Regions from separate parts of the Homo sapiens genome. Here regions 2 and 3 are each linked to region 1. Evidence: fine-mapped expression QTL. A gene starts in region 1. Each other region holds a variant in brackets. All regions are shown on one strand. Distances are between the middles of the regions. Region 1 holds the start of ZNF232 (zinc finger protein 232). Region 2 holds the start of RABEP1 (rabaptin, RAB GTPase binding effector protein 1). Region 3 overlaps ZNF594 (zinc finger protein 594).

The links.
Region 2: its variant is fine-mapped to the expression of ZNF232 in lymphoblastoid cells (GEUVADIS, PIP 0.95).
Region 3: its variant is fine-mapped to the expression of ZNF232 in lung (TOPMed, PIP above 0.99). The same link has a PIP of 0.9 or more in esophagus muscle.

The regions. Positions count from the first base shown.
Region 1 is chr17:5,108,138-5,116,315 of GRCh38, forward strand. It overlaps ZNF232 (zinc finger protein 232), which reads right to left and starts at 3,741. Exons shown (of 4, transcript NM_014519.6): 1 at 3,663-3,741; 2 at 1,257-1,731; 3 at 789-915. The coding sequence starts at 3,685. USP6 (ubiquitin specific peptidase 6) reads left to right here and starts at 7,895. Exons shown (of 38, transcript NM_001304284.2): 1 at 7,895-8,178. It overlaps ZNF232-AS1 (ZNF232 antisense RNA 1), which reads left to right and starts at 3,798. Exons shown (of 3, transcript NR_135658.1): 1 at 3,798-3,964; 2 at 5,249-5,315; 3 at 6,021-6,245. RefSeq lists an enhancer at 4,052-4,101.
Region 2 is chr17:5,278,840-5,287,017 of GRCh38, forward strand. RABEP1 (rabaptin, RAB GTPase binding effector protein 1) reads left to right here and starts at 3,445. Exons shown (of 18, transcript NM_004703.6): 1 at 3,445-3,681. The coding sequence starts at 3,648. RefSeq lists a silencer at 3,165-3,884 and an enhancer at 5,732-6,250. The variant GGGCGCGCGGGCTGC/G (reference allele first, on the strand shown) is at 3,815.
Region 3 is chr17:5,179,038-5,187,215 of GRCh38, forward strand. ZNF594 (zinc finger protein 594) reads right to left here. Exons shown (of 2, transcript NM_032530.2): 2 at 498-5,239. The coding sequence starts at 5,219. The coding sequence ends at 2,796. Among named protein-coding and RNA genes, the nearest start is that of ZNF594, 8.7 kb to the right of the region's middle. The variant G/A (reference allele first, on the strand shown) is at 4,205.

The sequences.
Region 1 (8,178 bases):
TTTTCAAATGCCTTGGTTTGGTGATAGTGATGGGGGGGCAGTTATGGTGTAAAAGCAAATATCAAGTAGACTCTTCTTGGTTAGCCGCATATTCACAATACGGTCACAAGGCTACAGAGGTCAACAAGGAGAGTTCACGCCCCTGAGGCTCTAAGTCTAGTGTTCGCCGCTGGGAGAGAGGAGAGGTTGTTTGCAGGTATGTATGCAGGCCAAGAAGGAAGTTTCTGTAGTGAATCTGAAGGGTAGAAGGTGAGGGCACACATAAGAGAGTTTCAGATAGGGCTGTTTACATGAGGAAGAGGTGGTAAAGGTGATGACAGGCTGTATCTCACATAGGAGTGCTTTATGGCTTAAAAAGTGTTTTGCGAGGCCTCAGCGAGTTTAAAAAAAAAAAAAGGATCTCAAGGCTGGCCTCTAGCTCAGGGCAGAGTTATTATAGACTAGGAGTTAAGTGCAGTGGAGATGATAAGGCATAAATGAATGAGCTATTTCCTGGTCCTGATTTAGGGCTCTCTAAAGTTAAGAGATGCTGGCCAGGCTTTATATCCAGATAAGACCCAAGTTGAGCTTAATCCTCAGAGCTATCTTATGAGGTAGTTTATTCTTACTCCTAATTTTATGAGTGATGAAACAGGCAAAGTCTCTCACCTAAGAGATAAGAATAGTAAGGCTGTGATGATACCAAACATTTAAGCACCTACTACTATTTACCCTTTACAGGTACTAGGTACTGTGCCCTTTATAGTCCCTCTTTCTCCTCTCCCTCCCCACAGAATCCTGCTCCTCACCACTCTTTGGGAAAGGCTGGGTCTCCTTAGGCTGGAGCTGGATGCTCAGTGCTTCCTGGGCTGCTCCCAGAGATTCCTTCTTCTCCCATGGCTCTTCCTGTGCAGGTCCATGTGCAGGGCCTGGGACCTGGAGGTGATCAGGCACCACTCAGTTTAAATTTTCTTCAAATTACTAGTGTGGTTTCTGTCCCCTGCCTGGACACTTGCAGATGTGACCCTCCTTGGACCAAAGCTTCCAAGGAGACTTTAGAGAGCCTCCTCAGAGTCAGCACAAGGGAAGAAGAGGAGCTAGAGTCTCTTTCTCATTCAGGGCTCGAGGGCAGAAAAGACAGACACAGAAACACATACTAACTGCTCTACCTGGCCCAAGAGAGGTTTGAACTTGGCACCTCCCCCTACAGCTGCCCCTCGGTCCAGCCTGAAGGTCATCAATCTGGCTCCCATAACAGACCAAATCCCCCTTCCCACCTGCGGCTCTGGTTCAAGTCCTTTCTCTAAATCCTCCAGCACAGTCACAGCCTCCTCTCCACTCTTAGGGTGATGTCCCCGCACCCAGGATTGGAGCTCCTCAGGCAGGATGGTCAAGAATTGTTCCAGCACCAGGAACTCCAGGATCTGCTCCTTCGTGTGTTTCTCTGGCCTCAGCCACTCACAGCAGAGTACTCGTAGTTGGCTCAAGGCCTCCCGGGGACCAGGAGTCTCCTGGTAGCGGAGATGCCTGAAGCGTTGGCGGAAGATCTCTTGACTGGTAGAGTGGTTCCCAGGTAGCCTGGTCTCATACTCACAAGACTGTTCCTCTTCCTTTGGTCCCATCATCATCATCTTCTCTTGTCCCTGTGTACCCTGAAGGGCCAGAGTTTCAGCTGCTGTTAGTGATACAGCCATCCTAGTCTGCACTAGCTCTGCAGAAGGCTCATACCAGCTGGAATCTTGCAAGGGCCCCCTGTAACATAAGAAGAAATCATTCCTCTTTTTTTTTTTTAAGACAGAGTCTTTCTCTGTTACCCAGGCTGGAGTGCAGTGACATGATCTCAGCTCACTGCAACCTCCACCCCCGGGGTTCTAGCGATTCTCCTACCTCAGCCTCCCAAGTAGCTGGGATTACAGGCGCCTGCCACCACATCCAGCTAATTTTTTTGTATTTTTAGTAGGGACGGGGTTTTGCCATATTGGCCAGGCTGGTCTTGAACTCCTGACCTCAGGTGACCCACCCACCTCGGCCTCCCAAAGTGGTAGGATTACAGGCATGAGCCACCGCGCCCGTCCTCCTCTTCTTTTTTCATTCATTAAACATATACATATACTCAACACTCCAAAGAGCCAAACCCTGTCCTATGCCCTGTAGTCCCGCTTTTTCTTCCACCCCTCCCCAGAATTCTGCTGCACTAAGTCAATGTTTTTGAGAAACTTGCACCGTGGTAGAAACGGGGATGTAAAGTGGTTTTCTATAATACAACTAATTAAATGCCATTGACAGGAAAAATGTATCAAGAAAAAAAAAGTTCTGGGGGCCTATGGGAAGAAATGACTATTGGAAGAAATAAGTTTGAAGCAAAACCCAAGTTTCCAGATGCAGAGCCCAGAGCCGAGCAGCTTTCAGTGCAAGGTGGAATGTGTTGGGGAGGCAGCCTCCTCTGAGATGGCTCCTCCCTGCTTTCAAAAATTTCTGAAGTAGTAGCTACAGCAAAAGAAAAATATAAGTCCCCTTTAAGGAGCTGGATCTCATTCAAATGCCAAAGCCCTATTAAGGGGCAGCTATGAACAAGTCTCGGGTACAGTGGCCTGCGTCAAGGAAATCTAACAGGTGTAAACCAAAAAAGCATCTGAGATAGGTCTCAACCAATTTAGGGGTTATTTTGCTAAGGTTGAGGATGCACCCAGGAAAAAGACACACAAGCCACAGTAGGATCCGTGGCTCGCACTTTTACCAAAGAGGGTTTTGAGGGCTTCAATTTAATGGGGAGAAAGCTGGCAGGAGGGGAAGGAGGAGAGAAGAGGGAGGGTATGTGGTGAGGTAAGTGGCCACATTCTTGTGAGGATTTGATTAGAGCTCACTGAATCCACATGTTGCACGTGAAAAGAGGAAGTCAATTATGAATTTGTCTCGTGCTCAGTAAATCTGCATTTTACACAAGATAAGGTAGACATACAGTAGAGGAAGAAGTCAAATATGCTTTGTCTCTGGGTGGGTGGAGGAACGATTTCTAGTCTTGTCCGGTGAAGCTCGGCTGTTCGTTTCCATTGCCAGGGTGAGGGAGGCCACCTGGGGGCATATGTTGCTTTCTATCTTGCAGCTATCGGTTTAGGAACAAAAGGAAAAGCAGTTTTTTTCCGTGACTCAGTTTCCAAGCTTAACTTTTCCCTTTGTCATAGTAAGTTTGGGGTCCTGAGATTTTATTTTCCTTTCACACAGGGAAGGAGGTGGAACGCATCAGAGGCCACGAAAGGAGCACAAAGGGGGACCGCTGGCCTAAGACAAAGGAGGCGCGAGGAAAAACGCGGAGCTCGCGTCTCCCAGGGTGATGCCCGGCGCCGCTGGCCCCAGCAAAACTTCTCTACCCCGGCCTCGGGCAGGTGCCCGCCCGGGGAGGGGGCTGTCGTCCAGGCCAGGTACAACTCCCCTTCCCACCCTTCACTCCCTACCCAAGGGTCTCGAGAAAAGAGAAGAGGAACATCAAGACCCCCCTCCACGGCACGTGACGCGACGCAACGCAGGTAGCGCAGCGCGGGCACCACGGGCAACCCAAACCCCTCTCCACACACAACCGCGGAGCTGCCTGCCAGGCCTGCTCACTGCAGAGCCGCCGCTGCCTGCGGGACGGGCAAAAGCCAAGCCGCCAGGTGGACCTCGGGGAAGCCGCCGCCAACACTCACCTCACAGGACCAGGAGGTTCCATCGGGGCGCTGCCGCGAATCGCGCCACTTACAGCCCTCACCCCAGGGGCAGGTTTGCGCCTGCGCAGGTCGCAGCCTCGGCCTCCAACTCCCAGAATCCTCCTCGCCGCCGGCTTCCGTTCGCGGACTTTGGCCCAGGCGCGTGGGCGCTGCCGAGAGGCTGGGAGCCCGGGAACCGGTTCCTGGACTTGAGCGGAGCGAGAAAGAGCGCGCCGCCTGCACGACTGGACTGGAGCGGCCGGGTGCCCTGGAGGCCCCTGGGAATTGCAGTCCTTGCGCAGGTGGAGAGTGAGCCCTTGTAAGCGGGTGACTTCATCAAGTTTGGGGGGTCTCTTGTGGAATTGTACCTGAAGGGCGGTGCTGGCGGACAGATGTCAGGGAAATTCTGGCCTTGTCCATGGCCTGTGGTAACACTTCTCCATGAGTTCTATTTTCCAATTACCTCTTCCCAGACCTGATGAGAGGGCCACAGCTAAGGAAGACGGTCCCTTCCACGAAAAAATATTCCCCAACCACTAGCCTGTACAATTCCTGGGGCGTAGGGGGAGGGGAGGAGAAAAAAGAATTCTAAGGTTAATTTTATTGCGATGGGGGAAATAGGGGTTGGTGTTTTTTTGTTGTTGTTATTTTTTATTTTATTTATTTATTTGAGACGGAGTCTTGCTCTGTCGCCCAGGCTGGAGTGCAGTGGCGCGATCTTGGCTCACTGCAAGCTCCGCCTCCCGGGTTCACGCCATTCTCCTGCCTCAGCCTCCTGAGTAGCTGGGACTAGAGGCGCCCGCCACCACGCCCGGCTAATTTTTTTTTTTTGGTAGGAGACACGGCGTTTCACCATATTAGCCAGGATGGTCTCGATCTCCTGACCTCGTGATCCGCCCGTCTCGGCCTCCCAAAGTGCTGGGTTTACAGGCGCCCGGCCGATTATTTTTTATTTTTTTTTTGAGACATGGTGGCCAACATGGTGAAACCCTGTCTCTATTAAAAATACAAAAAGGTTAGCTGGGCGTGGTGGCGGGCGCCTGTAGTCCCCACTACTCAGGAGGCAGGAGAATCGTTTGAACCCGGGAGGCAGAGGTTGCAATAAGCTGAGATTGTGCCACTGCACTCTAGCCTGGGCGACAGAGTGAGACTCCGTCTCAAAAAAAAAATTAATTAAAAATAAATTTATCTCACTATCAATTTTGCAGGATATTGATTGATCCAGTCTCTCAATACTTTTATAAAATAGCTTAATCCTAGTCTCTCCAAGAAAAATTGTTGTTCAACTGTGTAGTACCATAGTAACAGTTCTCAGATTCTCAGATTATTAAATTTGTTTCTCCAAGATATAGTATCCTTGAAAATGCGCATTGACACCCCCATGGCTGGGGGATATATTATCTTTTTTCCTTCAAAGTGCCATTGATAATTACTGCACGTAGGAGCTATGGATAAAAATAGTTATCATTTGTTGAATGTCTACTACGTGTCTAGAACTATGCCAGGAACTTAATGAAATTGTCTTATTTAGTCTTCACAGTTGCTCCACAAGGGATTGTATTAATGTCATTATCTTGATTTTACAGATGAGAAAACTCAAGACTCAGAAACAATAAAGGTTACAGAGATGAAATTGACAGAGCCTGAATTTCAGTATGTCAAACTTCAATGTGCCATTATACTTTTAAATCCTACAGAACAGATTGAATCACAACTTCTACTTTTACATGAGAGAAGACAATGGGTCCTATGACTTACTGTCAGTTTCCTTTTCCTGATTTAATTAGCTGCTTCTGTATCTAATTTTGCTAGGAATGGAGGAATAAGGCAAATTCCCTAAACTACATATTGACATTTATACTAATGTGAAAACCTCAAGTCCATTTGCAGACTTTTGGATTAGATTCTGTCCCAGAAAGACATCCACCCTAGAGTTCAGGATATCATACCCATTTTACTGTTCCCCTGGCACAATTCATAGTAAGGAAAAACAGACAAGGGGAAAGCTATTAGATTCTCGGTGCTGCTAAACAGGACACACAAGGACACCATTTTGTGATGATGATGGTGCTTTATGCAGCTTCCACCATTTACAAGATTTTCCTGTGGTGTGGAACCTCTCATGATAAAGCAAAGGAACTAGAAGCTTATTCCAGTCAAGATTTCTGATTTATCTTGTGGTAAGCATTTGGGAAGGACATATCTGCACATGACCTGAGACTAAGTACTATACACTGAATCAGATGAAAATTGCTCTTAGGAAGCTTACAATTTTCCAAATAGTTAGGACAAAAACAAACTCTCCTTCTCTCTTCCTATATGTACATACTGACATCTTTATCATTACTGTCTTCCTAGGGTTATGATTCTGTATGGTTTCTTTGGTGCTGCATTAGACCTGAGCTCTGATTGAAAATTCTTCCACGCTCGCTACATTCCAAAACTTTATCTCCAATATGAATTTCCAGATGCCTCACAAGGTCTGAGCTCCATCTGAAGGCTTTCCCATGCTTGTCACATTCATAGGGCTTTTCTCCACTATGAATTCTATGATGTCGAATAAAGTGTGAGCTCTGATTACAAGTCTTTGAACATTCATTGCATTCACAAAGTTTCTTTCCACTGTGAATTCTTTGATGCTGAATAAGTTGTGAGCTCCCCTTCAAATCTTTCCCACACCCAATGCATTTATAAGGCCTCTCTCTCACCTTGTATGGATTCTCTGATGTTCTGTAAGGACTGAGTTCTGGCCAGGCGCAGTGGCTCACGCCTGTAATCCCAGCACTTTGGGAAACCGAGGCGGGTGGATCAGCTGGGCTCAGGAGTTCGAGACCAGCCTGGCCAGCATGGTGAAAGCCCCTCTCTACTAAAAATACAAAAATTAGCCGGGTGTGGTGGTGGGTGCCTGTAATCCCAGCTAATTGGGAGGCTGGGGCTGGAGAATTACTTGAACCTGGGAGGTGGAGGTTGCAGTGAGCCGAGATCGGGCCACTGCACTCCAGCCTGGCAGCAGTGTGAGACTCCGTCCCAAAAAATAACAAACAAACAAAAAAGACACCAGAGGGCTTTGGGTCCCTCTCTCTCTGCCATGTGAGGACCCTGTGAGAAGGCAGCCAGGGAGCTCTCACCAGAACCTGACCATGTTGGGCCCTGGTCACAGCCTTGCAGCCTCCAAAACTGAGAAAATAAATTTCTGTTGTCTGGCATCCAGTCTATGGTATTTTGTTACGGCAGCCCGAGCTAAGACAGAGGAAAACTGGGGGCTGATGTGACGGCGGGGACTTTAGGTAGAAGGACCCCACGTCAAAAGTCAAAGCTAAAAATTCTGGAACGAGCCAGGAAGGCATCAGGACGTCTCATTTTATTTGCTAGAGGCATCTTTTGGGGGGTGGGGCGGTGGGTGGGTGGAAGGAGATGTGGCCAGTGAGCCTCTGACTTTTAATTGAGTTATTTCGAAACAAGGAACAGAGGGCCGGATGTGGTGGGTCGTGCCTGTAATTCCAGCACTTTGCGAGGCCGAGGCCAGTGGATCACCTGAGGTCAGGAGTTCAAGACCAGCCTGGCCAACATGGTGAAACCCTCTCTCTACTAAAAATACAAAATTAGCCTGGCGTGGTGGGGGGCGCCTGTAATCCCAGCTACTCGGGAGGCTGAGGCGGGACAACAGCTTTAACCCGGGAGGCGGAGGTTACAGTGAGCCGAGATGGCGCCACTGCACTCCGGCTTGGGCAACAGAGCAAGACTCCGTCTCCAAAAACACACACACACACACACACAAAACCCAAAACGGAACAGAGGCAGTTCTGTATTCCAGAGGGATTGATTTGTGATGCCTGCTCAAAACTCAAGAAGCCACCACCCTGATACTCATCAAACCCCGGAGAAATTTCGTTTTTAGAGTGTCAGAAGGCCCCATGAATAACCTTCCAGTCACTGAGGGAGGTCCCTACTCAGCACGCCCCGGTCTCCTTCACTCTCCTGCACTCGTGCCTCACAGATGGCCTCATGCGCGGACTGGCGGTCCAGCCTCCCGGGGACACAGCCCGGGCGCACCCCGCGCCGCCTTTGGCCACTGAGGCGGTCCTCGAGGCGCCGGGCTAGGGAAAGCCTCCCCGGCCGTCAAGGCTGGGATAGCGCCGGGGGATCGGGGCGGGGTGCGTGCGCCGAAAGGGCCTCAAAGCTGTAGGGCTGGACGGCACAAAGGGGCGCAAGGCACGGAGGCCAGGCAGAGGGGACAGCTAGCGGCGCGGCGGGACGGGCGGGCCCCGACGCCCAGCTCCAAATGCGTGGCCGCTGTGGGAGCTCGTCTCCAGGCGCCCATCAGTCTTCCCCTCACTCGACGCTACCTTGGCGGCCGCGCCCATGCTGTCCCCGCTCCAACTAGCAGTCAGGAGGGGCCGCGGGCAGCGCTCGAGACGCTCATTGAGAGGACTTCCCGCCTGCGGGCTCTCTGCTCGACGCCACTCCCGGCCCCGCTCCGGGCGGCCCCCCTCACCACTCCCGGCCCCGCTCCCGG
Region 2 (8,178 bases), 170 kb after region 1:
GGCTTTTTAACTACTTCCCTCACATGGAGAGCCCTAGGTGTCCAAATCATATGCCTGACCATTTCTGAGGGACCTTGACTTGAGGGCCTGGCTTCAAGCCTCATTATCAATGGCAACAAATTTGCCACTCTCTCACTGGAAGGAGCCCCTTCTATTTTATTTTTATTTATTTCTTTTTTTTGAGAGGGAGTCTTGCTCTGTCGCCCAGGCTGGAGTGCAGTGGTGCAATTTTGGCTCACTGCAACCTCTGGACCTCCTGGGTTCAAGCAATTCTGCCTCAGCCTCCCGATTGTAAGTGCCCAACACCACGCCTGGCTAATTTTTGTATTTTAGTAGAGACAGGGTTTCACCATGTTGGTCAGGCTGGTCTTGAACTTCTGACCTCAAATGATCTGCCCGCCTCGGCCTCCCAAAGTGCTGGGATTACAGGCGTGAGCCACCACACCTGGCCGCATCTGCTATCTTTATGGCTTATGCCTCGTGTTAGTCATCACAACAATACAGAGGATGCACTGGGCTGCCCTATCCTGGCCAAAGGTCTTCCTGGTAAGCATGGATTTGCTCATCCAGGAAAATCATTTATGGGGGGTTGGGCAGGGTGTTGGGGAGACCCTGCTTGCTCTCTCAAATGCACACCAGCCATTTGGGAGACATTAACTGCTCAAAAAACTCGAGTCTGTATTTTGGCTCTCCTCTAACGATGGCAGGACCTGGGGCAAAAGTACAAATAGATACCTAAATTATTTAAAATTACAAACCAGTTTGGACGTGGTGGCTCACACCTGTAATCCCAGCACTTTGGGAGGCCGAGGTGGGTAGATCACTTGAGGTCAGGAGTTCAAGACCAGCCGGGCTAACATGGTGAAACCCTGTCTCTACTAAAATTACAAGAGTTAACTGGGCGTGGTGACACACGCCTATAATCCTAGCTACTCAGGAGGCTGAGGCAGGAGAATCACTGGAATCCGGGAGGTGGAGGTTGCAGTGAGCTGAGATGGTGCCACTGCCCTCCAGCCTGGGCAATAGAGTGAGAGACTCCGTCTCCAAAAATTAAATAAATAATAAAATAAAATAAAATTACAAACTACTCCAATTAACCGCTAACCTTAATACAGTCTATCCTTCTACTTGGACAAATCTACCTGTTTAAGACCTGGAAGACCAGGTTTAAATTTAGAATTCCTGGGCTCCTGGGAGTTATGCCCATGAATGAGGTGGCGAAAGCAGCACAGGCCCTGGCCCAACTATTGTCTCTTGGCTCACTTGCCTTCTTTTCTCACCTCTGTCCTGCACCATGAGGGATCTGTGGACATAGGAGCTCAAACACCCAAGTGTCGTGTCACCCCCTTAAAATAAAACAAAGCTGCCCTTTAGCCTCCCTTTTTTTCAGTGAGAAATAATCATTTTAATAAAAGTATACCTTATTTAAAACAAATGATTTAAAGAAAGTAGAAACTGATTCTAATTAGTGGATTTTCTGATTATTATTATTATTATTTGAGATGGAGTCTCGATCTGTCGCCCAGGCTGGCAGTGGTGCGATCTTGGCTCACTGCAACCTCCGCCTTCTGGGTTCAAGCAATTCTCTGCCTCAGCCTCCCGAGTAGCTGGGAGTACAGGCGCCTGCCACCACACCCGACTAATTTTTTGTATTTTTAGTAGAGATGGGGTTTCACCATCTTGGAGAGGCTGATCTTGAACTCCTGACCTCGTGATCCACCTGCCTCAGTCTCCCAAAGTGCTGGGATTACAGGCGTGAGCCACTGTGCCCGGCCTATTATTATTTTTTTATTATACTTTAAATTCTTGGATACATGTGCTAAACGTGCAGGTTTGTTACATAGGTATACATGTGCCATGGTGGTTTGCTGCATCTATCAACCCGTCATCTAGGTTTTAAGCCCCGCATGCATTAGGTATTTGTCCTAATGCTCTCCCTCCCCTTCCCCCCACCCCCCACAGGCCCCGGTGTGTGATGTTCCCCTCCCTGTGTCCATGTGTTCTCATTATTCAATTCCCACTTATGAGTGAGAACATGAGGTGTTTGGTTTTCTTTTCCTGTGTTAGTTTGCTGAGAATGATGGTTTCCAGCTTCATGCATGTCCCTGCAAAGGACATGAACTCATTCTTTATGCTTTCACTTTAGCTTCTTTTAGGGATGTCTAGACTCTGCCATAGAGAGAATGGATCTGGGAAAGAGACCACAGCTTCAGCCATCTGGAAAGGGAATTCTGGGGCCACAAGTATTCAGAACTTGGTCCTGAAGTGCCAAACCCTGTGGACTCCCTCATCCTGGGGTGGGATTGCTGGGTCTTAAAATGTACATAATTCCTGATGCTCCTCTCTGATTTCAAAATAGCTTTTTAGGCCGGGCGCGGTGGCTCACGCCTGTAATCCCAGCACTTTGGGAGGCTGAGGCAGGCGGATCACGAGGTCAAGGGTTTGAGACCAGCCTGACCAACATAGTGAAACCCCGTCTCTACTAAAAATACAAAAATTAGCCGGGTGTGGTGGCGTGCGCCTGTTGTCCCAGCTAGTCGGGAGGCTGAGGCAGGAGAATTGCTTGAACCCGGGAGGCAGAGGTTGCAGTGAGCCGAGATCGCACCATGGCACTCCAGCCTGGGTGTCAGAGTGAGACTCTATCTCCAAAAAAAAAAAAAAAGCTTTTTAAACTACCTCCTTGGCATGGGGCACTCCAGGTGTCGAAATCAGACGGGGAGTGGTGATTAGAGGGGAGTTCCTAAAGTATAGGGCCCAGGGGCCCAAGTATAAGGGCCACACTTTGTGTATATGATTTCTCCTTTCCTGCCATGAGTGCAGGGTCTGTACCTGGCTGTATCTCCAGCATCTATCACGACTGAAAACCCAAACGTATTTGCTGAATGGATAGTATACTGGCCTCTGCACCAGAAGACCTGGGGTCCAGGCCCAGTACTGTCGGAAACAGTTCTTCATACTTTATTACCTCGTTTAAACTTTTCTTAGCCATTATATTGATAAAAATTCCAAGAGGTGAAGTGACTCTCCCAAGGTCGCAAAGCTAGAAGAGGTAGAGGCTGGAACTGCACCCCGCCATCGGTCCTCCTCTCTTACTCATTTTTTTTTTTCCCCTCACTGTGCTGGGGTGGAGAACCGGGACCGGCACCTTCGAGAGGCCAGGCCTCTGCTGCAGCCCCTCTTCTCCAGCTCCGCTCGGCACTCAGCCTCCCCGCGCCGCTGGGTCAGGCGCCCAGCTCCGCCGAAACCCTCCCCTCCCGCCGCGCTCCCTCCGCGCTCCCTCCGCGCTCCCTCCGCGCTCCCTCCGCGCTCCCTCCGCGCTCCCTCCGCGCTCCCTCCGCGCTCCCTCCGCGCTCCCTCCGCGCTCCCGAGGCCCCGCCCCTCCCCTCGGGCCAACGTCACGTGCCGCCCCATCCCCCTGCGCCTGCGCACTGCTTATTTCCCGCTGTCAGGATGAGGAGGCGGAGGTCGGCGGTCGGGTCCGTCTCTGCCCGCGGCTGTGGCGGCGCCGGCGGATCCAGCCTTAGCGGTTTCTCTCTGGGCGGCGGCGGCGGCGGCTCGGTTGACGCCTCCTCCGCCAGCTGAGCCCGCGGGAGCCCAGGACGCCGCTTCCCCGCCCATCCCCGCTCCCCGAGGCCGGCCGCCTGGTCATGGCGCAGCCGGGCCCGGCTTCCCAGCCTGACGGTGAGGCGCCCACCATGGCAGGCGCGGCGGGCGCGGCCTGCCCGGCGTCGGCGTCGCGGGAGGATTTCGGGGCGGGCAGGCGGCGGCAAGGGCGCGCGCAGGCCCCGGGGGTGACCCCGCCGGGCGGAGGCGG[GGGCGCGCGGGCTGC/G]GGCGCGCGAGGGCGGCGCGGGCGCCCCGGCTGCCGTCGCTGGGGAGGGGGCGGGAGGCGCGGGTGCAGCGCTTGCGGGAGGGCAGAGGGAAGGGCGTGGGGAGGCTGCTGGGTAGCGTGGGGTAGTGTGGGGAGGGAGCGGTTCTGGGTAGCGGGGGACCGGCACGTGGGTTCTGCCCGTGGGGGAGGATGGAAATCGGGAACATGTGCTATATTCGTTAAAGAAAAAAAATCTTAGCTTAGGTAGTGTACCCTCCCTGCCGCCCCAATCCTTGCTATAGAACTCTTTGCACCCAGTTATGTGACCTGAAAGTAGTTGTGTACAGTAACTGGATTTAGTAGCATTCCCTGAATGGCAGTGTGGCTTAATGGTTAAGTGTTGGGGCCTGGGAGTCTAGAGGACCTGTATTCTTAACCAGCAAGCTCTGGGCTCATTTCTTAGCCTCGTTGAGCCTCAGTATTCTCACCCACGAATTAACCAAGAGGTTAATTCATGCCTTTATATTTTATCTATAAAAATAGCAACACGAATGTGTATATACAATAATAGTATTATGGAGGTATTAGGAATAATGAGAATAGTGTTTGAGAATGCTGAGGCCTACTTGCACTACTTGAAGATATTTGCTTGTGGAACTAAAAAAAAAAAAGTGAAGTCGAAGAAATGTGTCATTTATATTCTTGGAAGGAAAAAAGGGCCCCATCCTAAATAATCAAAGTTGGTTGTCAGAGCCCTTCGTGACCTTCTGGGAAATTGGACTAAGCTGTGCTTCACAGATTGACTACATGGTTCCAGGTTTTACCACCTAGAATAGATGTTTGGAAATAGTGTGCTTGGGCTTTTCCAAGGTCCCACTGTATCTAGTTGTGAAAGTACTTTCTGGTGTATTTCTATAATCAGCGTGTGTGCTTAGCATCTTTAAGTGTGAGTAGAGTAGAATGTTGGGAAAAGGGGCTTGGTACGGAGTAGGTACTTTAAAACTTGGCTTTCCTTGGGGTTGTCTCAAAATAACCTTTCGTGAAACCCTTACTTTTTATTTTTGCCTTTGGGGAACTTGAAACCATGTTATCAGATTTTAAGGTTCTGGCTGCTCTCTGGGAAATGTGCTTCAGAGCCTGTTAGCCTGTAGTTTTGGGTGTTGTTGCTTGCCTAAGGGGAGATGTCCAGTAAGCATTTAGACTTTTATAAGAACCTGCTTTGCTGTTTCTGTTCCAGGAGAAGGGAAGGGAAGCATTTTTGGTGGGCTGTCAGAGAGAGGAAACTGGGATGTCTTCAGGCTGCATTTTAATGATCACCTTTTGCATTTGGTGTCAGGCAAGAAAACTTTGTTCTTCCACAATCCCACTTTGTTACTGCACACAGAGGCAAGATACAGAGAGCTTGTGGTTCTGAACAGGAGTGGTAGGTATGCATAGCTGGCTGCTGCCTTCTCTTGAGTTGCATGGAAAGAAACGTCTAGGGCAGCTCAGGTGACATGACCGTCTGGAATCAAAATTCCCTGCCTCTTTGAAGATATGAAATGGTCTTCCTTGTAAATAGGCAGAAGTGACTAAGCACTTGAACGAGGCTAGGGAAAACTAGCTTTAGGAAATCTTGTATTCTTGGTATTTTAGTTCAGGTTTCTTTCCTATTTCTCAAATCTTGTGACTCTAGGATGAGATTTAGTTTGCATAGATTGCAATTTTTATTTTAAATTAATGTAGGTAGCCATGGCTACTTTTTACAGTAGGAGAGAGATAATTTGGTACGTTTGAGTGCCTTGTGTCAGTGCCTTAGAAGTTCATCTTGGGGATTTTAATTTTTTTTTTTTTCTTTGAGACAGTATCTCACTCTGTTGCCCAGGCTGGAGAGCAGTGGCGCGATCTTGGCTCACTGCAGCCTCGACCTCCTGGGGTCAAAGCAATCCTGCTACCTCAGCCTCCCAAGTAGCTGTGACTACAGGTGCATGCCACTATTCCCAGCTAATTTTTGTATTTTTGTAGATACGGCGTTTTGCCATGTTGCCTAGGCTGGTCCCAAACTCCTGAACTCAAGGGATCCACCTGCCTACACTTCCCAAAGTGCTAGGATTGTAGGTGTGAGCCCGTGAGTCCGGCTTTTGGGGATTTAATTTGTGTCTTTAGCTGAACTCATGTAGACCATTTTAGCTTTAGGCACGTTTGAATTTCCTAGTCCTGCTGATTAAAAAAAAAAAAAATCGCCAGAATTCTTTTGTGTCAAACTGGTGGTGAAAGATAACTAACTGCTTAGTCTTTGACTTTATCTTGTTTTATCCTGTTTCAGAAGCGATTGTCTTTGATGACTTTTTAAAAAAAAAAAAATATTGTCTGTTTTTCATGGCCATATGGTAGATTAGGAAAATCGATTTGTGTGTAAATCGAAGGGATGAAATGTAATCATTTTATTCATTGTAATTATTTTGTAAGTTAAAAAAAGTTTTGGGTTTTTGATACTGCATCTTAGTTTACTTATTTGGAATACAGGTAATTTTAATAGTTAAAGAAATTTCAGTTGATCTGTTTTCCCTTGAGAATTTAAAAATGAAAATTTTCTAATTTTAGTATTTCTTTTAATCTAAGTTCAACTATATCTTTGAAGCATTTGCTCTGGTTTTACTTCACTTTTTTTCTTTTTTTTTTTTTTCTTTTGTAGAGAGGGTCTCATTGTGTTGCCCAGTCTGGTCTTGAACCCCTGGGCTCAAGTGATTCTCCCATCTTGGCCTCTCAGTGTTGGGATTACAGGCATGAGCAACTGCACCCAGCCTACTTCATTATTTTTTATTCTTGCCATGTTGGCCAGGCTGGATTCCTGATTGTTTCCTGTTAGTTACACAGACATGCTACCTTTTACCCCTGAAGGACATGCTTTACATACATAAGTCTGCAACTTCCCTATCTCACTTAATAAATGTTAGCTATCATATTATATACTCATGGTTATATGGCCATGTAATGTTCTGCAAACACTATAGGCATTATCTTAGGAAATCTTCATAGCAATGGTACTATTGAATATTACTGCTTCTATTTTCTTGATGAGGAAACTGAAGCACACAGAAGTTAAAGAAACGTGCCTGTGTTATACAGCTATTAAGTGGGGGAGCAGGATTCAAATCCATGCCATCTGGCTTATGTACTAGATCATGGACTACTTCCAGGTCAGTGTTGTAGGCCTTCTTCATTCTTCTTAAAGACGATCTTATCATATGCATGTACCAGGCATGATTTATGGCCTATTTCCCTATTGTGGGGCAAGTAGATTGTTTTCAAATTTTAATTATTTTATAAGCAGTGTTGTAATGGATGTCCTTGTGCATATTTTTTAAGGTACTCTTTTACTTCTGTAAGACTAGTGAATTAAATAAAGGGCATGAGTTCCGAGTGGTTTAAATTTTAATACCTGTTGCTAGCTTACTCTCCAAGGCATCAATTTACATACTTGCCAACGATATATGGCAGGTGGATTTCCCCTGTAATCCTACAAGCTCTGGATGATGTCATTTGTTTTAAATTTGTGTCTTTTGATTAAAAAAAGTGATATTGTTTGGCCGGGCATGGTGGCTCATGCCTGTAATCCCAGCACTTTGGGAGGCCAAGGCAGATGGATCACAAGGTCAGGCGTTCAAGACCAGCCTGGCCAATATGGTGAAACCCCATCTCTACTAAAAATACAAAAGTTAGCCGGGTGTGGTGGTGCGCACCTGTAGTCCCAGCTACTCAGGAGGCTGAGGCAGAAGAACCGCTTGAACCCGGGAGGTGGAGTGAGCAGTGAGCCGAGATCGTGCCACTGCACTCCAGCCTGGGGGACAGAGTGAGACTCTGTCTCAAAAAAAAAAGAGTTGTATTGTTCAATTAACAAGTATTTGTGTGCCTATTCTATGCCGAATCCTATGCTAGGATCTAGGAAATACAGTGATGAACAAAACCAGACCCAGTCCCTTTCCCAGGTAGTGAATCATTCAGCCATTAATTAGATAATCCTATAGACACACACAAAACTATTTATTCATCTAATATGAATGCATACTGTTTGTCAGGCACAATTCTAGGCATTTGGAATACATCAGTAGGCAATATAGATAATAAATAACCCTGCCCTAGTGTGGGAGAAACGGATATTAAACAACAAACGTAAGCAAATGATACGGGTTGTTAGATGATAAGTGCAATGGAAAAAAGAAAACAGAGCAGGAGAAAGGGAAGGGGGTGGGGCTGGTTTTAAATAGGCTGGTCAGGCAGCTTTATTGAGAAGATGACATTTGTGCAAAGACTTGAAGTAGATAGAGGAGTTAGCCTTGAGGATATCTGGTGGAAGGGTGTTCTAGGCAGGGATCAGTTTTTGCATATGCC
Region 3 (8,178 bases), 71 kb after region 1:
GATGACAGGAGGCCCTCAAGGACCCAGAAGGCAGGACCACAGGGAGGTGACAGCGCCAGCAGCAGCAGGGCAGGCCTCTGCCTTGGCCACAGCTCCTGGCGGGCTGCAGGGGCCGGGAAGCCCGAGCAGCCTGGCGCTCCTGGCCCCTGCACACACTTCCCTCCCTCCACCCCGTTCCTCTCTCTCTCTGTGCCTTGGGCCCCCTGGGATGCGCTCACATCCAGACTCACCAGGCCGGAGACGTTGGCAGAATGGAGAAGTGCTGGCTACAGGTGGATGATGCCCACCTGGCTGCCAATGACTTCTGCACCAAGCGAGGCTGGGTCTCTGGAGCTGCACCAGGGGCTGGACAAGCTGACCCTGGCCGGAGCCAACCTGGAGATGCAGCCTGAGAACCTCAAGGAGGACCTGGTCTACCTGAAGAAGATTCAACAATGACTATCTTTCTTCAGCCCCATCTAATTACGGCCCCTGGCACATACTAAACAGTCACTAAGTAATTCTTAAATAACTTTTATTTCAACATTCAGTTAAAAACATTCCATACTGTAACAAAAATTTCAATCTTTCAAAAGTCCAATACCCTTAGTTTGATTCAAGCTCCATCAAAGATGAATTGGTTAGTTTTTAATCTGGAGTTTACAAGTCATAGTTAATATTTCAAAAAGCCTAACATAGACGATATGTTTGCCCACAAAAGGAATAAAAAGACTAATGAAAATGGTAAATTATTTGCTTTGGGCTGGAATTTTAGTACCTAGGTCTGCCTACATGGTGCCAGTCAGAAGCATGATTTGTGTTGTACATGCCTTTATGTAGCAAAATATAATTCTTTAATAAATGCAGTTTGGTAAACATAATCTTTTAAGACACAGGACATAGGGGAGTAAAAAGAAGGCCTTGGTGATTAAAAAGTTGGAAACCACTGAATTAAATTACCTTCAAATCCCTGTAAGTATCCTGTTTATCCTTATAAACATTAGCTCTCACTGTACAGCATTGTAAAGACAAGCAGAAGAGTTAGACTTTTTTTTTTTTTTGAGATGGAGTTTCGCACTTGTTGCCCAGGCTGGAGTGCAGTGGCATGATCTTGGCTCACCGCAACCTCCACCTCCCAGGTTCAAGTGATTCTCCTGCCCTAGCCTCGCAAGTACCTGGGACTACAGGCGTGCCCCACCATGCCTGGCTAATTTTTGTTATTTTTAGTAGAGACGGGGTTTTAGTATGTTGGCTGGGCATAGTAACTCCTCATGATCAACTCGTGACCTCGTGATCTGCCCACCTTGGCTTCCCAAAGTGCTGGATTACAGGTACGAGCCACCGCACCTGGCCTACACTCATTACTTTCACAGGGTTTTTTCCCACATTTAAACTTGTCACTCGACTAGGAAGTCAAGATTGAAATGGCTCTTTCCATGAATAATTTAGTTTTGGGGTTGTTGCCAAAGTGATTTATAATGATTTTAATAATGATAGACATCCCTTAAAACATTCTCAAGTAATTAGACCCCTGGGGCTGGTGCAGTGGCTCATGCCGGTAATCCCAACCCTTTGGGAGGCTGAGGAGGGAGGAGTGCTTGAGCCCAAGAGTTCAAGTCCAGCCTGGGCAACATAGTGAGACCTCATCTCTTTGTATGTTAAAAAATAAATAATTTAAAAAATTGTATCGTTGGGACCATATTCTAGTGTCAGTTCTGAGACAGAAAAAAAAAAGGTGATTATGTCCAAGAGCTTTTGGCTTTTCCACTTGATTATACTTACGTTTGAAAAATCCAGTAGGTATTTTCTCTGCTTTCCCACCTTCCCATGGTTTTTTTCTAATAAAACTCATTTGTAGTGCAATAAGATGTGGTCTCCATCAGACTTTTCCTAGTTTTACTGCATTCATTAGGTTTCTGCTACCTATTAGAATAGGTCCTGTTTGTAGACTCTTACAGTCTTCAAATTCCTTTCCAATGTGAAGTTTCTGGTGCTTAAGAAAAGCTGTCCACCCACTGAAGGCCTTACCACAGTTGCTACATTCAAAGGGTTTCTCTCTGGTATGAATTCTTTGATGACTGACAAGGTGTGAGTTCTGACTGAAGGCCTTCCAACATTCAGGGCATTCATAGGGTTTCTCTCCAGTATGAACACGATGGTGTCTAATAAGATCTGAGCTGCCCCTAAAAGATTTCCCACATTTGTTGCATACATAAGGTTTTTCTCCACTGTGAATTCTATGATGTCTCAGAAGGTCTGAGCTCTGATTGAAAGTTTTCCCACATTCTTTACATTCATATGGTTTCTCTCCTGTATGAGTTACCTGATGTCCGATGAGGTCTGAGCTGCCCTGGAAAGCCCTACCACACTGATTACACCAATAAGCTTTCTCTTCTTGGTGAATTTTCTGCTCTCCCCTAAGCTCCTCATCCTTGCTGAAGGTTTTCTCACGTTCTTCAAGTTTCTCTCCAGCATGCAGTCTCTGATGTTTGAGGAAAGCTGTGTGCCACATGAAGAGTTTCCCACATTCCTTACATTCATAGGGTTTCTCACCACTATGAATTCTCCGACGTTGAATAAGGAGTGAACGCCGCCTGAAGGCTTTTTCACATTCAGTGCACTGATAGGGCTTCTCTCCAGTGTGGATTTTCTGGTGTGTGACAAGGTGGGACCTCTGGCTAAAGACTTTCCCACATTCACTACATTCATGAGGTTTCTCTCCAGTATGAACACGATGGTGTTTAATAAGATCTGAGCTGCTCCTAAAAGATTCCCCACATTTATTGCATACGTAAGGTTTTTCTCCACTGTGAATTCTATGATGTCTCAGAAGGTCTGAGCTCTGATTGAGTTTTCCCACATTCTTTACATTCATATGGTTTCTCTCTTGTATGAGTTACCTGATGTCTGATGAGATCTGAGCTGCCCTGGAAGGTCCTACTACACTGATTACACCAATAAACTTTCTTTTCCTGGTGAGTTCTCTGCTCTTTTCTAAGCTCCTCATCCTTGCTGAAGGTTTTCTCACATTCTTCAAGTTTCTCTCCAGCATGCAGTCTCTGATGTTTGAGGAAAGCCGTGTGCCACATGAAGAGTTTCCCACATTCCTTACATTCATAGGGTTTCTCACCACTATGAAGTCTCCGATGTTGAATAAGGAGGGAACGCCGCCTGAAGGCATTCCCACATTCACTGCACTGATAGGGTTTCTCTCCAGTATGGATTTTCTGGTGTGTAGCAAGGTGTGACCTCTGGCTGAAGGCTTTCCCACATTCACTACATTCATAGGGTTTCTCTCCAGTATGAATACGATGGTGTTTAATAAGATCTGAGCTACCCCTAAAAGATTTCCCACATTTGTTGCATACATAAGGTTTTTCTCCACTGTGAATTCTATGATGTCTCAGAAGGTCTGAGCTCTGATTGAAAGTTTTCCCACATTCTTTGCATTCATATGGTTTCTCTCTTGTATGAGTTACCTGATGTCTGATGAGGTCTGAGCTGCCCTGGAAAGCCCTACCACACTGATTACACCAATAAGCTTTCGCTTCCTGGTGAATTTTCTGCTCTCCCCTAAGCTCCTCATCCTGGCTGAAGGTTTTCTCACATTCAAGTTTCTCTCCAGTATGCAGGCTCTGATGTTTGAGGAAAGCTGTGCGCCAAATGAAGAGCTTCCCACATTCCTTACATTCATAGGGTTTCTCACCACTATGAATTCTCCGATGTTGAATAAGGAGTGAACGCCGCCTGAAGGCTTTCCCACATTCAGTGCACTGATAGGGCTTCTCTCCAGTATGGATTTTCTGGTGTGTAACAAGGTGTGACCTCTGGCTAAAGGCTTTCCCACATTCACTACATTCATAGGGTTTCTCTCCAGTATGAACACGATGGTGTCTAATAAGATCTGAGCTGCCCCTAAAAGATTTCCCACATTTGCTACATACACAAGGTTTTTCTCCACTGTGAATTCTATGATGTCTCAGAAGGTCTGAGCTCTGATTGAAAGTTTTCCCACATTCTTTACATTCATATGGTTTCTCTCCTGTATGAGTTACCTGATGTCTGATGAGGTCTGAGGTGCCCTGGAAATTCCTACCACACTGATTACACCAATAAGCTTTCTCTTCCTGGTGAATTCTCTGCTCTTCCCTAAGCTCCTCATCCTTGCTGAAGGTTTTCTCACATTCTTCAATTTTCTCTCCAGCATGCAATCTCTGATGTTTAA[G/A]AAAAGCTGTGCGCCCACTGAAGGTCTTCCCACATCTGTGACATTCATAGGGTTTCTCTCCACTGTGGAGTCTCTGGTGTTCAGTAAGGTGAGAATGCTGCCTGAAGGCTTTTTCACATTCATTACATTTGAGGGGTTTCTCTCCAGTGTGAATTCTCTGATGTGGGACAAGGTGTGAACTTTGACTGAACATCTGTCCACAGTCATAACATTCATAGGGTTTCTCTCCAGTGTGAATTCTGTGATGTATAATAAGATCTGTGCTTTGACTGAAAGCCTTCCCACATTTATTGCATAAATATGGCTTCCCCCTACTGTGGATTCTCTGGTGCAGGACAAGGTTTGAGCTTCCCTTAAAAGCCTTCCCACACTCTTTGCACTCATAGGGATTCCCACCACTGTGAATTTGCTTATGTCTCACCAGATTGGAGCTCTGATTGAAGTCTTTTCCACATTCATGACATATATAAGGTTTCTTTCCTGTATGAATTCTCTGATGTATAATAAGATTTGAACTTTGATTAGAGTCTTTCCCACATTCATTACACACATATGGCTTATTTCCTGTATGAATTCTCTGATGTATGATCAGGTTTGAACTCCTGTTGAAGGTTTTTTCACATTCCTTACATTCATAGGTCTTATTTATATTATGAATTTTCTGATGTTCAGTTAATCCTGACTTCTGTTTGAAGTTTTGGCCACTAACCTCATATCTATGGGAGCTTTCTCCTGCAGAAAGTATTTTTTCTCCTTCATTACATCCATGGCCAATCTCTCCCACAATGGCTTTCTGGGGGATAATATGCATTTCCCTGATACCGCTCTCTTGGGAAGGGAGATGTCTCATTGCATCCTTTAAAGGGCTTACCCAGTGCTTCAATAATCTGTCCTCAGAATTACTGGTTTCAACTAACTCACATTCCTGGGTGATTTGTCTTTGGAGTTTTTCGGATGCAGCCCTTGCTGACTTCTTTTCTTCAGAAATTTCCATCTTTGATTTCCATTCCTTCATCTTATTCCTGTCTTCAGAATCTGAAATGATAAGTAGATCATTCTATAATTCCTAAAATACAAATATCATCTCTTCATTATACTGGGCAGTCTAAGAGGGAGGAACAAAGAACTCAGAAGACCTTTCCCTGCCAAAGCTGAGATGTGGCTTTCACTAGCGACACTGTGGCTAACACAGGAACCTGTGCTACCACATACCCTGTTGGTGAAAAAACCCGCCAGGGTGCAGGCTGGAGCTGGGCTGTGGGAGTGGCCTAAAGGGTGGTGAATTAATTCACTGGGGGAGGAGGGCAATCTGGAGTTGGTCCACAGGAAGTGGCCTGTTGGATGGGGGAGGAACTTGCTGGATGGTGTGGCTGGGCCTGAACTGGTTCACAGGAAGCAACCCACTAGGGTAAATGCCACCAGGCCTCCCACAAGTTGATCTGCTAGCAGCCACATAAGTAAATAATTAAAATAAATAAATAAAAATAGAACAGCACACCGGTACCAGGAAGTTAGTTTCTCTTCCCATGGCCACGCATTGTCCCTCCAGCATCCTCTGTTGACAAAGTCAAATCTTGTACGAACTGGCAAAGGAGAAATGTTTACAGAATCCAGCTTTGTAACAAAAGCAAACAAAGATGGGTGGATCTGGAGTTGAGAGGCAATAAATTAATAACCAGCATACTGCTCTTTCCTCCCTATATATCATGATAGTTAAGCAAATCTGTACTATGCCTCAGAATAAAAACGTTTGGCTGTCATTTCAATAGAAATCAATTCTCTTCTTCTCAGACCTCACATTTTTCTTTCTGATATTCTGATGGAATTGCCTCCTTTTGTGTGGCAATTTGATTTCTTCTGAAATTACAAGATAGATGAGCTTATTGCTTTTGAGGGTCCACGTTATCAAATCCCTGACCTTCCCCAGTGGATTAGTCCGTTTTCATGCTGCTGATAAAGACATACCTGAGACTGGAGAGAAAAAGAGGTTTAGTTGGACTTACAGTTCCACATGGCTGGGAAGGCCTCAGAATCATGGTGGGAGGTGAAAGGCACATCTTACATGGTGGTGGCAAGAGAAAATGAGGAAGATGCAAAAGCAGAAACCCCTGATAAAATCATCAGATCTCATGAGACTTATTCACTACCATGAGAATAGTAGGGGGGAAACTGCCCCCATGATTCAAATTATCTCCCACCATATCCCTCCCACAAAACATGGGATTTATGGGAGTACAATTCAAGATGAGACTTGAGTGGGGACACAGAGCCAAACCATATCATTCTGCCCCTGGCCCCTCCAAATCTTATGTCCTCACATTTCAAAACCAATCATGCCTTCCCAACAGTCCCCCTAAGTCTCATCTCATTTCAGCATTAACCCAAAAGTCCACAGTTCAAAGTCTCAACAGAAACAAGGCAAGTCCCTTCCTCCTATGAGCCTGTAAAATCAAAAGCAAGCTAGTTACTTCCTAGATATAATGGGGGTACAGGTATTGCTGGGTAAATACAGCTGTTCCAAATGGGAGAAATTGGCCAAAACAAAGGGGTTACAGGGCCCATGCAAGTCCGAAATCCAGCAAGGCAATCAAATTTTAAACCTCCAAAATGATCTCCTTTGACTCCAGGTCTCACATCCAGGTCATGCTGATGCAAGAGGTGGGTTCCCATGGTCTTGGGCAACTCCACCCCTGTGGCTTTGTAGGGCACAGCCTCCCTCCTGGCTGCTTTCACGGGCTGGTGTTGAGTGTCTGCAGCTTTTCCAGGCATACGGTGCAAGCTGTAGGTGGATCTACCATTCTGGGGTCTGGAGGTCATTGGCCCTCTTCTCACAGCTCCACTAGAAGGTGCCCGAGTAGGGACTCCATATGGTGGCTTCGACCCCACATTTCCCTTCTGCAGTGCCCTAGCAGAGGTTCTCCATGAGATCCCTGCCCCTGCAGCAAACTTCTGGCTGGGCATCCAAGCGTTTCCATACATCTTCTGAAATCCAGGTGGAAGTTCCCAAACCTCAATTCTTGACTTCTGTGTACCTAAAGACTCAACACCATGTGGAAACTGCCAAGGCTTAGGGCACCCTCTGAAGCCACAGCTTGAGCTCTATCTACATTGGCCCCTTTCAGCCATGGCTAGAGCGGCTGGGATGCAGCGCACCAAGTCCCTAGGCTGGACACAGCATTGGGACCCTGGGCCTGGCCCACAAAACCATTTTCTCCTAGGCCTCCAGGCCTGTGATGGGAGGGGCTGCTGTGAAGACTTCTGACATGCCCTGGAGACATTTTCCCCATTGTCTTGCGGATTAACATTCAGCTTCTTGTTACTTATGCAAATTTCTGCAGCCTGATTGAATTTCTCCTCAGAAAATGGGTTTTTCTTTTCTATCACATTCTCAGGCTGCAAATTTTCTGAACTTTTATGCTCTGCTTCCCTCATAAAACTGAATCCATTTAACAGGACCCAAGTCACACCTTGAATGTTTTGCTGCTTAGAAATTTCTTCCACCAGATACCCTAAATCATCTCTCTCAAGTTCAAAGTTCCACAAATCTCTAGGGCAGTGGCAAAATGCCACCAGTGTCTTTGCTAAAACATAACAAGAGTCACCTCTGCTCCAGTTCCCGACAAGTTCCTCATCTCCATCTGAGACCACCTCAGCCTGGACCTTATTGTCCATAATGCTGTCAGGCCTTTGGTCAAAGCCACTCAACAAGTCTCTAGAAGTTCCAAACTTTCCCACATTTTCCTGTCTTCTTCTGAGCCCCCCAGACTGTTCCGACCTTTGCCTGTTCTCCAGCTCCAGAATTGCTTCCACATTTTGGATGTCTTTTCAGCAGCACCCCTGGCACCAATTTACTGTATTAGTATGTTTTCATGCTGCTGATGAAGACATACCCGAGACTGGGAAGAAAAAGAGGTTTAATTGGACTTACAGTTCCACATGGTTTGAGAGGCCTCAGAATTATGGCAGGAGGCAAA